Linked DNA regions of Homo sapiens: region 2 is linked to region 1. The links come from fine-mapping of genetic effects on gene expression. Tissue or cell type: whole blood. Region 1 holds a variant in brackets; the other region holds the start of a gene. All regions are shown on one strand. Distances are between the middles of the regions.

Region 1 (8,316 bases):
AAACTGAAGGAATAGAGGGAATGAAGGAGGAAAGTAATACCAGGGTGGGTAATAGAGTGGTGGTGAAGAGGTGATCATTTCAAACTTAATGTGTCCAAATCTCACCTCTGGATTTCCCTTTAATAACTTTTCAGTTTCCTAGTCTTTACCAGCTCATTAAATGGCAAAATAATAACTTCATTGGGCCAGGTGAGAAATCTGCTCATGTCTAAAAACTCCAAGTCTAGCTCATTCTAGCTCTTAAATTTATCTCAAATCTGTCTGCACCCAGGCCATCACTCTAGTCCAAGCGACTGTTAGTTCTCTGCTGTTGACCTGAGTCTCTGCCTTTGACCTGTGTTTATGTGAACCCCTCTAACACATCTTTCTCATAGTTGCCAGGGCAATCTCCTAACAGGCTAAATTGTTTATCATCATTCCACTTATCTCACACAACTCTCGTCCTCATTCTCAATTCTTCAGTAATTTGGCCTACTTTCAGCTCCTCAAACAAGCATCTTCCAAGCTGAGAGTTTTAAGATCTGTTCCCTGAAATAATTTCCCCACACTCCCCACCCAGCTAGCACCTTCTCATCCTTCAGTTCTCACATTTAAATACTACTTTCTCAAATCATTCTCTGACTATGAAAGCAGTTTCACCTTTTCCTACCTTCTACACTTTAGTCTTTTTGTTCCTGTATTCACCACATTGCCCTTATGTAAGTATCTGTGTGCCAACTTGTTTAATGTCTGTCATAAGCCACTACACTGTAAACTCTGTAAGGACAGGAAACAGATCTACTTTGGCATGATTTACCTAATATAATGTCTAGAAAACAGTAGATTCCTGATGAATCAATCAATCAGTGATAAAACTGGTGTCACTTGGAGTGCTTATTTACATAAATCCCAGGCCCTAGCCCAGGAAATTTTGATTCAGCAGGCCTGGAGCTGACTGCAGGTATCTACAATTTTAATTAGCACTTTAGGTGATTCAGAGACATGTGACCCACAGAACACTCTAAGAGAAACATTGAGTTTGGAGTTTGATGCCATAATGAAGGCAAAATAATGAGGTTTTGAACTAAGGTGGAGGAACTGAATGGAAAGAAGCAGCCAGTGACACAATAGCACCTTTAATTCACTAAGAGTTAGGAATGTTACTACCTACATATTGTGATGTCATGGATCTCAGAAATACGCTTCAAATTTATTTCCTGTATCTTTTTTCCTGAATTCTTCATTTTTGCTGTCACCTCTTTGGAGGTTTTCTTTTTCTTTTTTTTTTTTTTTAATCTGCAGCAGTAAGGCAAAAACCAGTGTACATATCAGATAAAATGCGTTCATGTGATTAAACCAAAATAGCCATTAATACCCAATAGGCTGCAAACCAAAAGCAGAAATTGCCAAAGGCCCAAAGTATATGAAAACACAGAGAATGTAAAGGGAGATAGCATTTGTTCTATGGGAGAGTGAGAGAGATGCTACAGAAAGGGAGAGGATGGGGCAGATTCTCCAAAGGTCACTGTGAACACTGGAATTAGGGGATAAGAAAAGGTGAACAAGAGAAAGAAACTCAGAAGATCAACTCTGCTTCTTTTATGGTGTCATAAGAACTGCAGCAGAAGGGAAGACATGCAAGAAAAGAAGATTTGGGGGATCAGACTCAGAGATTCAGTCGAGGAATAGACGCTTTCCCTCTTCTCTTTGTGACATTTGTGTAATATTTTGATGTAGAACAGGTAACAAATTGACAAGTTGGCAATAAATTCATCTCTGTAAGAATCGTTTATGGAGCCTTGGATTTAACAACTCAGGTCATTTAGTGGCTGCAGTAGGCTCAGATGATAGAGCTCATTTTCCTTCTTGCCATTGTCCATTCCTCACAAGAAAAACCCTCCTTCTCAGTCATGTCATCTTTGCTTCAAAACATTTCTACTTATTGAAGTTGAACTGTTTACTTGCAGCAAAACTTCAGTTATAAATGTAGTCCCAGATAATTCACCAAAGTCACTGTACTAAATTAGGGCTGATAAAGGGAGGATATCATTTTTAAGGAGCATAGAAAAATAACAAAATGTAAACACTAAATTTAAATATGAATACTGAAAAACTATACACTTTGGGCATTAGAACAATGATTCAGAACTATAGTAATTGCTTTCCAAGTAAAACCATTTATCAAGTTTAAATCAAGTATTTACAAACGATGACCTATGTGTGAAAAATAATACATAAAAATATTAAATTATTTTGCATCATTTGAAAGAAGGCATTGGTATAATGAAGAGAGAAGTGACTTGGTAGTCACCCCTGAATCTATCAGTAACAAGATTTGTGACATTTTCACAACTCTGTCAATCTCCTAGAGCCTTAGTTTCCTAGCCTATAATACTTGAGGACCTGAGGCAAACCAGATGATTCTCTTCTACTCTTAATATTTAATTCTAGGTCTTGCAAAAAGAATGGAAAAAGAAGTTAATGCATTGCTTTCCTTTGAAGTACTCACAGCCTAGTTTGGGAGATCACAGAAAACAAGCCACTCCATTTATAATTGTTCTTTTTTCTTAATCACACTGAATAAACACAAAATCAGTTGCAACTTTTTTTCTATATCTCTCTCTCTCACCTGATTCTGAGTGCCACAAAAGTAGGGACTATGATTTAATTAGTCCCAGCGATGTGAGCCTGGAAGCTGGAGCACCTTAAATGCTTAGTGAATCTCTATACAAATGAGAAAATTAAAAAAAGAAAGAAAGAGAGAAAGAAAGAGAGAAAAGAACAAAAAAGGCTCAAAACCAAAAACCATAAAAGTTATCATTAAATCCAGGAAAAACTGAGTGAGCTCTTCTTGAACTTGGCACTTAATTGTCTCCATGCTCCTGCCTTTTCTGAGTCCTGCCAGTCCCTCTAGAATAATGCACACATGTATGCAAGCACACAAACTACAAACAAGGAAATCTGTCAAGCATTGCATATGCCATGAAGATGAGGGAAAATGTCCGGGGAAGGCTTGGGATCAGCTGAAAGGGGGAAGATGCTGAGGGCATCTAGCCAAGAACTCCCAGGTCATGAGGTGGGCAGGAGAAGGCTTTCCCCAATAGTTCTCTATGTTCCGTGGGAGGGAAAGTACTCATTAGTCTCTACTTCTGCACTGTGCCCATAAAGTGAAAATAAAGGAAGTAATCAACCAGACTTAGATTCTTTCAGTACCATGTACCCTCTCCTATTCATAAACTTGAAGTGTTAAGGTCTCACACTTGCTATGAAACTTCCTGTTGAGATGTCCAAGAGGAAAAAGATCATTAGAACTGGGGCTGCTGGAAAATTCTGATTAGTCATATAAAGTTGAATTAAGATTGAGGTTAAAGAATCTCCTTCACTCCTTTCACACCACCATTCCCAAGTCTAAAAACTTGCTATTTCCAAACTTTCTGCATTTCTTTAGACATTGCCATTGAGTTGTCAGGTAC[C/T]GAGGGAAACAAGAAGAAGAAAGAGGGGATTCTGAAGAAGTTAAAATATGTTTTCATCTCAGACATACACAACTTTTAAGAATGCAAGTGACTAAAAATGTAAAATTGTGTGATTCCTTTAGAAAAACAGTTTAACAGTTTCTTCAAAAGTTAAACATACACTTACTATATGACCCAGAAATTTCACTCCTACATATTTACTCAAAAAAATGAAAGGGTATATCATTCCAAAGACTTGTACACAAATGTTTATAGCAGCCTTAACTCTAATAGCAAAAAAACTGTAAACAAAGTATCAGAGGTAAATAGATAAATTGTGGTATATTCAGACAGTAAATACTACTCAGCAGTATCAAAAAACAAACTATTGGCACATGCAACAACATAGATGAATCTCACAGCTGCAATGCTGAATGAAAAAGAGTACATACTGTATGATTTACATTGATTATAGGAAAACAATCTATATCAATAGAAATCAGGTTACTGTTTCCTTGGGGAAGGGGATAGAGAATGATTGACTACAATGGAGGAGCTTAAGGGAACTGGGTAGATAGCAATGTTCTAGAACTTTACTGGCTGGTGGTTACATGGATAAGGAGGTCATCAAACTCATTTAAGTGTTTACTTAAATGGTGTGAATTTTCTTGTATATAAGTTAGACCTCAATAAAATTAATTTTAACAAAATTCAAAATTACTCTAAAGCTGAAGTTTTGTGGTATCCTTTATGGGTATCAGAAATGAAAAGAAAATACTAGATCCATATAGTTAATCACCACCTACCAGCTCTCCCCAACTCTAATCACCTATATAAATCCCAGGGAGAAATCAGTGATTAAAATATGTAATGCTGAAGTCAAAATGAGAGAAATTGGAGCATAGAGTATGCTGTATAGGATGTAAATTAGGAATATATTTATTTAAACAAAAATAGTACTGACATAAATTTTAGAAGAATAAAGTGATCACTCGATCAAAGCATCAATCTGAAAGTTGTTTAATCTAGCAGGAGCCAGGTGTGGTGGCTCACACCTGTAATCCCAGCCCTTTGGGAGGCGAAGGGGGGCAGATCACTTGAGGCCCAGAGTTGGAGTCCAGCCTGGCCAATGTGGTGAAACCTCGTCTCTACTAAAAAATACAAAAACTAGCCAGGCGTGGTGGCAGGTGCTGTAATTCCAGCTACTTGGGAGGCCGAGGTGCAAGAATCACTTGAACCTGGGAAGTGGAGGTTGCAGTGAGCCAAGATCATGCCACTACACTCCAGACTGGGTGACAGAGTGAGACTTCATCTCAAAATAATAATAATAATGATAATAATAATCCAGTAGGAAGAAGGTTAATGTTACATATCTTCATGCAGTAAGAAAAACTTAATAGCTAGGACTGAGGTGGGAGGTTGATCTGAGCCCAGGGAGGTCGAGGCTTCAGTGAGCACTGATTACAACACTGCATTCCAGTCTGAGTGACAGAGTGAGATCCTGAAGAAAGGAAAAGAAAGAAAGGGAGGGAAGAAAAGGAAGAAAAGGAAGGAAAGGAAGAAAGAAAGAAGGGAGGGTGGTAGGGAGGGAGGGGGGAGGGAGGGAAAATCTTAATAGTGGTCATAATAGTTACCATTAATTGTATGCTTATTGTATGCCAGGTGCTTTACATACACTGTCTCACTGAATTCTTAATACTTTGCAGTAGGTATTAACAATCTTATTTTAGAGTGAAGAAGTGAATTTATAGTGATTAAATAACTTGCCATGGATCCTACAAATAGTAAATAACAGAACCAAGATTAGATCCCAAAATGACAGTTGGATATATGGTATTGAAGTTTAGGAGAAAGATTGGGTTAGAGATATTGGAAGTCATATCTGTACAAATTAAATGGGCTGGACAAAGAAAGGATGAGAAGAGTGAGAAAACCAACAGGATGATGACAGGATGTTACAGCGTTGGACCTGAATATACATGTAATACATATATGTAGGAAATATGTATTATATGTACATATATTAAATATATAAATAGTAGATATGTATTATACGTACATGTAATACATATACGGTAAATATATATTATATATACATACATGTATTATGTATATAAAATATATTACACACACATGAAGTTATTTAATTATTTATTTTCTCTTTAAAGAAGAGGGCTTTCTGCATCTGGGAATTGTGGAGAGAGTGTTGCTATGGGGCTTACTTGGATTTCTAGTCCCCACCCTTCTATTAACTATGAAACACCTTTAGCAAAGTTTTTTGTTACAGAGCTCCTTTCTTTTTAATGGCTTAGCACCTGTGATTCTTTATTTCCAAATAGCCATAACTTTTTCTTAAATTACTATTTTATCTCTTTATAACATAAACGTATTCTAAAAAGAAAATAGTTGCATAATAACTATTATATATATTATTGTCTTAATCACATATTTTCAATATGAAGAAAATTTAAAAAATACCAATTTTATACTACTCGAATGATTTTCCCAGAATAATTGAGCTGTATATATCAAAGTCTGGTCAGAATAAAGAAGCCACTCTAAGTATTCCAAGCAGAAAGTGTTCTTATATGTGGAATTAGATGCTTACAGAACTGATGGAACTTCTCAAGCAATGAAGATCAAAAAAAAGTCACGGCTAGAAATGAGTGATTTACAGGAACTTTCCTGGGAGTTGCTGCAAGTGAAGCTCAGGAATAAAAGGGGAGCCATGATGGCAGATTTCAGGTGCCTGCAGCACTGTGTGGGTGATTCCCAGGAGTTCACCCAGAAGCCACCATAAGTTTCTGTTATCAGCCTGTGCACCTGCTCACAACTGCCCCAATGAATGAAAACCCTTTCATTAAGACAAAAGCAGAAACACATCATAGGAAAGAGAATTCAAACATGCTCCCCTTCTAAACAGAGGAGAATATAGAAAGGATTATGGGTGATGTCAAACTAATACCATATAAAACAGCACCAGAAATGATCAGTTTTTATATCTCGCTCCGGGTAGCTGTATATGAATCAAATCTAGGATTCCCAACAAACATTAATGTATAAATGAAGTGACGTAGATGTGATAGGACAAGTTGGACTAATTCTATGATATACATAATGAATTCTTTAATTGATTATGAATATTTTAATAAAGTATAACTTAAAGTACTTTCATAATCATATGAATGCATTATTTGTCTTTTATTGCTGTTATTGCAGTAGATTGAATGCAGACACAAATATAAAAATCCAACTGCTTTGTGGAGCCAGACGTGAAAGAGATTTGCAAAACTATAAAGCACTTGTCTCACTAATTTTATATACATATAACCCACATTTTTTAAAAAAGCTTTTGAAAGTCCTAATAATTTTAAGAGTGTAAAGGGTCTTGAAAACAAAAAGTGAGAATTACTGAATTAGAAAAGTGAATCCTCAATTGACTTTCTGATAAACATATTTTCTTGGAGCATATCTTCAAACCACAAGTTAACTGCCATTTTATCTTACACTAAACTTTTTTAAAAATCTCATTGCATTAGAAAAGTTTGCATTGACTGCAGCATTTGCCAAATAGCTTCATGACTCACAACTAAAGATAGGTTACACATTGGAAATTCAAGAGACCAAGAAACCAACTAGTAGGTAATGAAGGACCTCATGAACCTTGAGTCCCTTGTTGGGAAATACTTTCAAGATAAGTGATTTAGGATAAAAAGTCCAAATGAGATAGCCTTCATTTTTCAAGAGAAAAACAGAATATAATCTGAGCTTTGACTCATTCCACACATTATGTTCTAATTTATGTAAAATAGTTTTTGGATTAATCATGACTTTTTCTTGGACTCCTTCACTATTTCTTACTCATCCCTGACATCAGAGGCTGTTTGGCTTTCTGGAGCCAGAGTACAAAAATGCAGATGGAAGGCAGGAAGCAAAATTACATGGCTGGATTTGGGGGATTTTTCACATGAAAATATGAATCTAAAAAAACCACAAACTCTGAAATAAGAATTCTGTAAAGCTCCCTACACGTTAAGCACATTTATATACAATTGTATTTTGTAGTTCTAATATCAATATTCAGTTCTGCCTAAGTTAGTCCTTTACCTCAGTGATCACAATAGTATTTTCTGTTTGTGTTCAATCAGAATTTCTTTCTAAGCTTTATTAGATGTCATCCCATTCTTGTCCCTTGCTACTTTATGCTGGGATGATCATTTATATTTTGTAGCTGTTAGTGCTCTTGGAAGATTTCCTCAGTTTCTGCTAATGTAATTTCCAAAATTTATTCAAATATAGATTATTTTTATTTAATTTTCTCCAGTGCACTCTGAGAAATGCTTGGCACTATTAATCTGTTAACCCAGAGATTGCATCTAGGTTTAAAATCTTGAATCTTACTTTCTATTTTTCTCTAACTCCCTGTTGCCCTTCTCCTTAATAATGGGAAACCCTAATTCTTTCCCTTTGGCAGTAACTTCCTGTTTTGAATAAGAGTAAAAAATTAATTTCCTGATGTAAAATATACATTTTTTTTTGAGACAGAGTCTCGCTCTATCACCCAGGCTGGAGTGCAGTGGCATGATCTTGGCTCACTGCAACCTCCACCTCCTGGGTTCAAGCAATTCTCCTGCCTCAGCCTCCCAAGTAGGTGGGATTACAGGCACACACTACCATGCCCGGCTAATTTTTGTATCTTTAGTAGAGATGGGGTTTCACCATGTTGGCCAGGCTGGCCTCGAACTCCTGACCTCAAGTGTTCTGCCCACCTCGGCCTCCCAAAGTGCTGGAATTACATGCGTGAGCCACTGCGCCTGGCAGAAATACACACTCTATCACACATAATGGGAAAAACCATTAAACATTCCTGCTGGTTACTTTAGAT
Region 2 (8,316 bases), 110 kb after region 1:
AATTTCCTGTTTTCTATTAAATTTAGTAGGTAATGTTAAGAAAAATTTCCTTTGTAACAGCAAAGAAAGCCAGTGGAATTTACAGCCAAGTTGGTAGCATATCAAAGTAAAATACCTGACACATACTATGTACTTAATAAATAATAAATAATTCACTATTATTATTTATAATAACATTATTAGTATTCTTCAGTAACTAAGCTGCATTCTCTGGACTTCCAGAATCATCTATTCAATCACTCATTCACTCAGTCCGCAAAAATTTTTGATGATGATGGTGATTAGAGGAGGAATGAAATTAAGAAACTCTAAAAACAATTTATCTATTTTCAGGGGTGCTGGTGAGATTTGAAGGTGATTTAATAGTAACTCAAAATAGAACATTAACTCAGGAAAAAAAAACAGGAGCATATATCAAAACAACAATGTTACCTCTTTGCACATTCCAATCACCATTTATTTACTCTTGCAAATTAGATGAGACAAATTAAAACTAGATCCAACTTGAATGTCTAGCTAAGTGTCCTGTGTCTTTTTTTTTTTAAAGAATCTACATTTGAATATACCTCCTACAGAAATTCAAATACAAAATGAGCTCTAGAGAATACCACACATACATGCTGCACATTAAGCAGGAAGCGAGGAAGGTAGATCCGCCTGGGGCAGGAAAATGATATAATTTTCCTCATATTCAATGGTATGGCCCTTCCTCTTCATTCTCACAAGGATTTGACCTTTGTCACAAACACGGATGGTCCTGATCGTGTCACTCCGGAACATGGACGTTATCAAGGACAGCTGCCGGCACTCTTGGTAATAATTTCTCTTTAAATGTAAGTGATCTTTCCTTTGAACATTTTGAGTTGAGATGGATGTGTGTTCAATAAACTTATTATGGCCTCTTCAAAAATCTTTAATATTTTAGTTAACTATGATTGATAGATCTTTTTGTCACTTCTCTCTTCTATTATAGCCATTATTGTTTTTAAAGATGGATGTAGTATAGATGTCACTGAAACAGAGATTCATTTTCACTAACACTAAAAGAAAGCATGTTCTACGCTAATATGTAATCTCAAAAACAACACTGTTTCTTGTAGTAATTATGAACATTCCCAACTTCGCTTTGAGTAAAGAGATGAAATTTTAAAATATAAAGTATTTTCTCTTAAGCAAAAGTGTGCTAATTAATAATTTTACACACACACATATAGACTTATGGACACTTATGGTTCTATTGAGCACTGTTTGAATTTTAGGATGCAAAATAAATTAGATAAATTATCTAGTGAGCAAGAGACAAAATCCAGGTTCTTGTTCATGCACAGTCTTTTTACTGTAGGGTGAAATTTGTCTCAAAAGTGTGAGGTTCAAATTATTTATTTTTCAAAATTCTCACTAGTTTCCATTTTGCTGGTTATGGCCTAACCTTTTTAACTTTGAGTTATTTTCAAGAGAAAATTTGAAAAAGCAGCCTTTGAGGAGAAAGAAGCAATCCAACAAACAAAAAGATAACCACACTGTAATAGGAAATGTGTTTTGAATAGGACATTGGAAGAAAAATAATAATCATTTTTACAGGTAGATCCCAAAGTCAAGGATCTATGTTCAACCATGTGTGTTCCACCATCTTCACAATTGAATGAGTAACCATCATTAAGCAGTTAGCTTAGGCCGTAATATGATTCTTGGACTGAGATTTCAAAAATACCACAGGCCTTCTGAAAGGTTACCCCTTTCTAGCTCCACTATCATCTAATTTTATTAAAAAAAAAAAAAAGGAAAAATTTGAGCTTCTAGAGAGTAGGGGCTACCATTTTGTATCCCACAGGGCCAAGGAACAAGTTTTAATGTATTCATTTAAATTAATTTCAGTATGAGTATTGAAATATATAATAGAAATATTGTAACATTATATATTTTCTATATACTTTTATTATATAGAAAATATATATTACAGAATATATTATTAAATATTGTAGAACAATATATAATACAGAAAAATATATAATACTCAGTAATATATTAAATACTTATTAAAATAGCAAGCTTATATAGGAAGAGTGATGGAGCATTGTGAGAAAGTTTCAGCTTTATTTCTTTGACATTACTTTGTTTCTGCACAAACAAAAGAATTACAGGAATTGTCCAGATTATTCAAATAACTCGAAGTTGAGGAGGGAATATAAGTCAATGATGTAGAAACTCTTTTAAGATTTGAGCTAGCCTACAATCTGTAAAGATCTGTGAAATTGAACTATATTTGTGCTATTTCCATATTAAGTCAAGGCAACAAATCAATATTAATAATAATAACATAGCACTTCTAGAACTTTCTAAAGAGTCCAATAAAGTTTTGTTAGAAAGGATTGTTTTTGAAGTTAAAAACCATGAGAAATTCCAGGAAAATCCACATACCTATGCCATCATACTATCAATCAGGGCAAAACATGCTTGAGTCTTTCATCAAGACTAAATGATTAAGGAGTGGTACATAACTTTTCCCTGTTCTGACTAGCTGAACACTTCCTTTTACTCCACATTTGTTTAATTGGCATGAAATTTCCCACTCCACTAAAACAGATCTTAGGATTTGGACAACACAAAATATCATTTTTTTTGAAAGGATTTGAGGATAAATCCAAACTAATAGAACTGAAACTTCTATATTATGCTGGGTAGCAACTTAGTTTTCCCTACCCTTCTTCATGCTGGGAGATGAAAGAGATTCAGTTACGGCTTAAGCTCCACAGGCATACAAAGTGAAGCAGAAAACTGAGGCACGTGTGCCTCCATTATCTGGTATCTCATGTGGGGCTTAGAGGTAAATTGTCGTTATTTGGCCTCCATTTCTGCCTTTAACCACTGGTGTAAACAAAGGTTACTGTGCCAAAGTTGACAGCAACCCAAATCCCTTTGGCATGTGAATTAGTTTCCTCTGCCATACTGCTAGTTCCAAATTCCTTCTGGTTTCAGGATTTAGGAGTCAGGGTTGCCTCATCTTCTCAAATGAGTTACAGTCACGCACATCCCTACGCACTGCATGGTTGGCACTAGTTCCTTGATATATGTTACTCCGTTTGATCCTCATGAAGGATCAAATGGGGAAGGGAGATACTATTGTCTCTGATTGTCCATTAAGATCTTGAGTATGTTCTACTTCCCTGTTTGACACACTGGTTTGAAAATGTTGCTAAGTCTTCCCAACAATGACAGATACTCAGTGGAAACATGAAGGATTCCGTCAAACTGGTTATTTTGCATCATGTAGACCACTATTTCCCAACCTGCAAGTGCATCATGGCCTTTGGTGTGTCAGGGACACGCCTTGGGTGTGTGTCTCAGTCTAAAGCTTCCTCCTTTTCACAAGCTTCCTGTTTCTCATCTCTCTAGCTTCTAACTGTCACTGTAATCATCTCTTACTCTTCAGCCTGATGTCAAAAGCAAAAGTTCAGAAGTTCCTCATCAATAAGGAGTCCTTGTGAGCAGGTGAAGCTCATCTAACTAGGTAAGATGAAGATCTATCATAACCAGGAGGCAGGTTGGAAGGTGCCAGTTGCACTGGCAGTCAGGTGCAAGAGCTCTGCAGTGAGGCTGCCTGAGTGTCCATCCTAGATCTCTCACCTCTTGGCTCTGTGACCTTGAGCAGGTCTTAAATCTCTCTAAGCCTTTGTTTTTTTAATTGATAAAATGAGGATAATAATAGTACCAAAATTAGGGAGATTTTCAGAGCTTAAATAACATACGTGAACTATTTAGAGTAATGCCTGCCATAAGGGGACTCAGTAGCTTATTATTAGTTTCATACAATTTGAAAAGTTTCATAATATTTGCAGATATAAGATGATCTTCAACCAGATAGCTAATGTATGCAAAGCTATTTAGCTTCAGAAGTAAACTCTGCATTTCTAGAAGTTAAATATTACTTTGTTATAGTGAATTATCTGTAATATTTATCTCTTGCTCACTTTTATAAGAAAAATAGTGAAAGCATTTATTAAGAACTTACACTGCACTAAATGTTATATATGACTTAATCCTCACTATAACCCTATGAGATAGGTTACATTATTGTCCTAATTTTACTAACAAGGAAACCAAGAGACAAAGCTACTAAAACACTTGCCTGAGGTTAGACATCTTCTTCTGTGGTGAGGCTGGATTTCAAATTTAGACCATTTGACTGTAGCACTTATATGATGAGCACGCTGTTTAGTGTTATAGTGTTGGTCTACCTTTGAATAGACATACTTTTAAACCATGGCAAGGAAGTGAGACTGCACATTGAAATACGCAAAATTTGCCTTTGGGTGCCACGTGAGAAATAATCACATCACTAGAAACTAATCATAAGCTTTTGTGTTTGGTTAAAGTTTTATTGATCCATTTTTCTTGTTTACTTTGTGGGATACTGGGCTTAACTAGGGGATACCTCCACTTTTTACTTGGCCATGGTATGAAAACCTGTCCTCTGAATCTTTAGATATTTTGTCAAATTGTAGGCAAACAAAGACTTAAAGCAATTCAACCTTGATTAAAATAAGACCAAAAATGCCTCCATACTTGATTAAATTTATTTCATTTTAGGAACTGGATTATAATCAAGACAACTTCTACATGAAAAAATAGATTAATAGTGCTCCAAGTTAGTTCACTGTATTTATTCCTTTTTATACATTATCTGCCTTCGGTGTTATTCAAGTTTTCATTAATCATTAATAATTTCACTAATCATTTTATTTCATTAATCAACATTGATAGTTAAAATTAATCTGTGAATATTAAATGTTTTATGCCAGGCATTTCTATGATGTGGCTGCTTTTAACAACAACTTGTTTGATCTGTGGAACTTTAAATGCTGGTGGATTCCTTGATTTGGAAAATGAAGTGAATCCTGAGGTGTGGATGAATACTGTAAGTCATGGAAAACTGTGAAGAACATCAAATAAAGCAGGACTAATGGAGTATGAGGTTACGAAAGGTCCTGTTGTAACAGAAAATCTCTGATAAAACAGATAAAATGTAGATGGTTTTTAACCTCTGCAAGAGTCAAGCTAGTTAGATCTTTGTCTGAAAAACAAATACTGTCCGGTAATGAAAACCAAATTGTGCTATTGTGCTATCTATCTATCTATCTATCTATCTATCTATCTATCTATCTATGTATCTATCTATCTATTTATCTATCTATCTATCTATCTATAGATAGAACCTCCTCTTTTGAATTTATGTTTTAAGAATATCAAGCTATTTGTTGATGTACATGATTGCCTTCTATTGATCTATAGTTCTATTACTTTTAAAGCAAGAGGGGTCTCAAAAGACAATTGACTTGATAATATAGCTTTGTCAGAAAGAATGGGTCAATGCTAAATTTTCCCCCAACCCCCCAAAATATTAGCCAATAGTAGATATTTTTTAAAATTCTACTTATTTTGTATTAAGACTTTATTTATTAATTTTACAGTTACCTGGTGCTACAAATTTCAGATAATTCACCCTAATAAGCACACAACAGATGGTTTGTTTTGATTCCTTTTTATATCCTTTGGAGAAGTTCCACTAACGACTGTATTTTTACTGGGCAGAGTGAAATCATCATCTACAATGGCTACCCCAGTGAAGAGTATGAAGTCACCACTGAAGATGGGTATATACTCCTTGTCAACAGAATTCCTTATGGGCGAACACATGCTAGGAGCACAGGTACAAGATATGTCTCTCCTGAAAAGGGGACTGCATTGACCTCCTGCTTCTCAGGAGGAATTTAATGCTAGATATGCATCAACAGAGTTTATCAAAATTGGTTTGAATTATTGGATTAGTCTTTAAATAGTTATCAGGGAGGCTCACTCTTTGCCTGATAATTCTCTGAAGACAGACAGGAACCTAAAAATACAAACAGCAAGACTGATCTTGCTAACTGCAACCAGAGGTACTTGTTAGGGTGTAAACAGAAAGGCAGAGCCTGCATTTTGTCACCTCATTACTGATTTATCATGTGGAAAATTGCTTTGTCCCAGGAAAATGGATCCTCTCATTGTCAGAAGGAGATTTTCTAGGTTGTATGAAATTGACTCTGGGGCACCCAAGAAGAACCTCTCCTGCTCCCACTAAAATTAAGGGGCCTCCCTCTGCAGGATAAAAAACAATCTAGTTAAATGACAACGCATTTCTGAAAAGTTTTCCAGGACTGAAAACCTTAACATCCACATACACTTTGATCTAAGGGACAGACGGTTCATAGAATGAAAGAGTATGGTGTCAATAAGGCTTGAATTCTAGAATGAGGAGCCAGCCATGCCATAGCAGGGGAATGATACTCCTTAAAAGGGAAAATTTAACTACAAATCCTCTGAAGTAGAAATGATAAGAATAACCAAAATATCTGCAATGGTTCAATAGCAAATAATTTATTGGCAGCTGCTTACCGTGTTCATTTTGCATCTTTTTTCCCACCACACATATTAAGGAGCAGCTGAGGTCATGTTTGACATTCTCTCCCTCTTTTATCTCCAGTTTCAGAATGAAAAATGAGAGTGAGATATGAGTAGTTTTACTAGTTAAAATATGAAACACCCAGTTAAATTTGAAGGTCAGATAAACAACAAATAATTTTGTATAAGTCTCATTTTAAGATAATACTAAAAAGTCATTATTTATTCACTATTATCACTATTTATAAAATTTTGTAGAGCATCCTGGAACTTTTTGCTTACTTTTGTTTTTATTTTTTGCTAAATCTGGCAATCCCAGGCACATGTGTGAAGGAGCTGTGAAATATAAAAGGAGAAAACTTTTATGGGAAAGATTTGGCTTAAGGAGAGATAATTTTGGAAAGATTTAGAATTAAAGATCATTCATTAGATGTAATGTTCTAAATACTTTATATCAGTTAAACTTCTCATCAACAATATGAGATGGGTACCACTAATAGTCACCATTTCACAAATGATGAAATTAAGGCACAACCGGTTATGTTAAGAGGCCTAAAGTCCACAAATAGCAAGCTGACAGACCAGAATTTAAGCCCAGGCATGCTGGCTCCAGAGCCTGTGCTCTTAGTCATTAAATTATAGTGCCTTACTTGACCTTCCACCCTGGTTCTTTGGATCTCCCTGAATGCTCTCTCTCCCTCAGAAATCTGGAAGTTGGCAGAGGGACACTGAGCTGAGCATATTATTGTAGTTTTTAAATGCTCTCCACTGGACAGAGGATGGGGATTTGAATAGAAATTTGGTGAGGAACTAATCAGTGTCCATTTACACTCACCTCCTCTTCCTCCCTGGAAGAGCTATAGGACTTGAGTAAGCATGATAAATTTTGTGTCTTTGTAAACCACACCCAGGAAATTTGTATATACAAATACATAGAGCACAGTAGTTATCAGGACAGACTTTGACATAAAAAGAACTGGGTTTGAGTCCCTGCTCTGGCCTTCTTATCTGGGTGGCCCTCTGGGAAAGTTACTTAACTACATAAAGTTTTGTTTCCATATCTACAAAATGAGGTTTCTCAAAATAGCAGCTAGTTTATAGAGTTGTTGCAAGAATTTAGTAAGCTAATACATATAAATACGTCAACATAGCACCAGGTACAAAAATATGTGCTCAAGAAACTGAAGTTACCTGATTATAATGCTCTATACTATTGACAAGGGAAAAGTGAAAACAGTTTTTGTTTTACCATGTGTGTATGTGTGTGTGTCTGTGATGTTTCCGACATGCTCTATTTAACATAAATTACTCTCACTCTTTCTCTCTCTCTCTTTCTCTTTCTCCCTCTCTCATCTTACCCTTTCCCCCACCAGGTCCCCGGCCAGTTGTGTATATGCAGCATGCCCTGTTTGCAGACAATGCCTACTGGCTTGAGAATTATGCTAATGGAAGCCTTGGATTCCTTCTAGCAGATGCAGGTTATGATGTATGGATGGGAAACAGTCGGGGAAACACTTGGTCAAGAAGACACAAAACACTCTCAGAGACAGATGAGAAATTCTGGGCCTTTAGGTAAATATTAGCTAAGAAAACTCAAGGGGGAAATTGGAGGCAATTTAAAAAAAATAACGTGGACGCTATTAATGATTATCTTTGACGCTTGAAGTCATATAGCTCCTTGTAGTTTCTGTTAAGATCTCAAAGGAGGGTAACAGCAAGAAGCTCTGATTTTTCACTGATTCTCCCACAGGCAAAGTATGGCATTTCAACAAGATCATTTTTACATCCAATTCTGTGAATTCTATGCATTAAAAGTATGTCCAAAGAGACAGCTCAGGAAATTATCATGACCAATGTGCACATTCATTCAGCCAATGT

The links. PIP is the estimated chance that this variant, and not a neighbour inherited with it, causes the effect.
Region 2: it holds the start of LIPN, and the variant in region 1 is fine-mapped to the expression of LIPN in whole blood (INTERVAL, PIP above 0.99).

Annotation. Positions count from the first base shown.
Region 1 is chr10:88,644,173-88,652,488 of GRCh38, forward strand. No RefSeq gene overlaps it. Among named protein-coding and RNA genes, the nearest start is that of LIPF, 16 kb to the right of the region's middle. The variant C/T (reference allele first, on the strand shown) is at 3,453.
Region 2 is chr10:88,756,599-88,764,914 of GRCh38, forward strand. LIPN (lipase family member N) reads left to right here and starts at 3,422. Exons shown (of 10, transcript NM_001102469.2): 1 at 3,422-3,508; 2 at 4,800-4,915; 3 at 5,590-5,707; 4 at 7,812-8,010. The coding sequence starts at 4,808. RefSeq lists an enhancer at 2,577-3,776.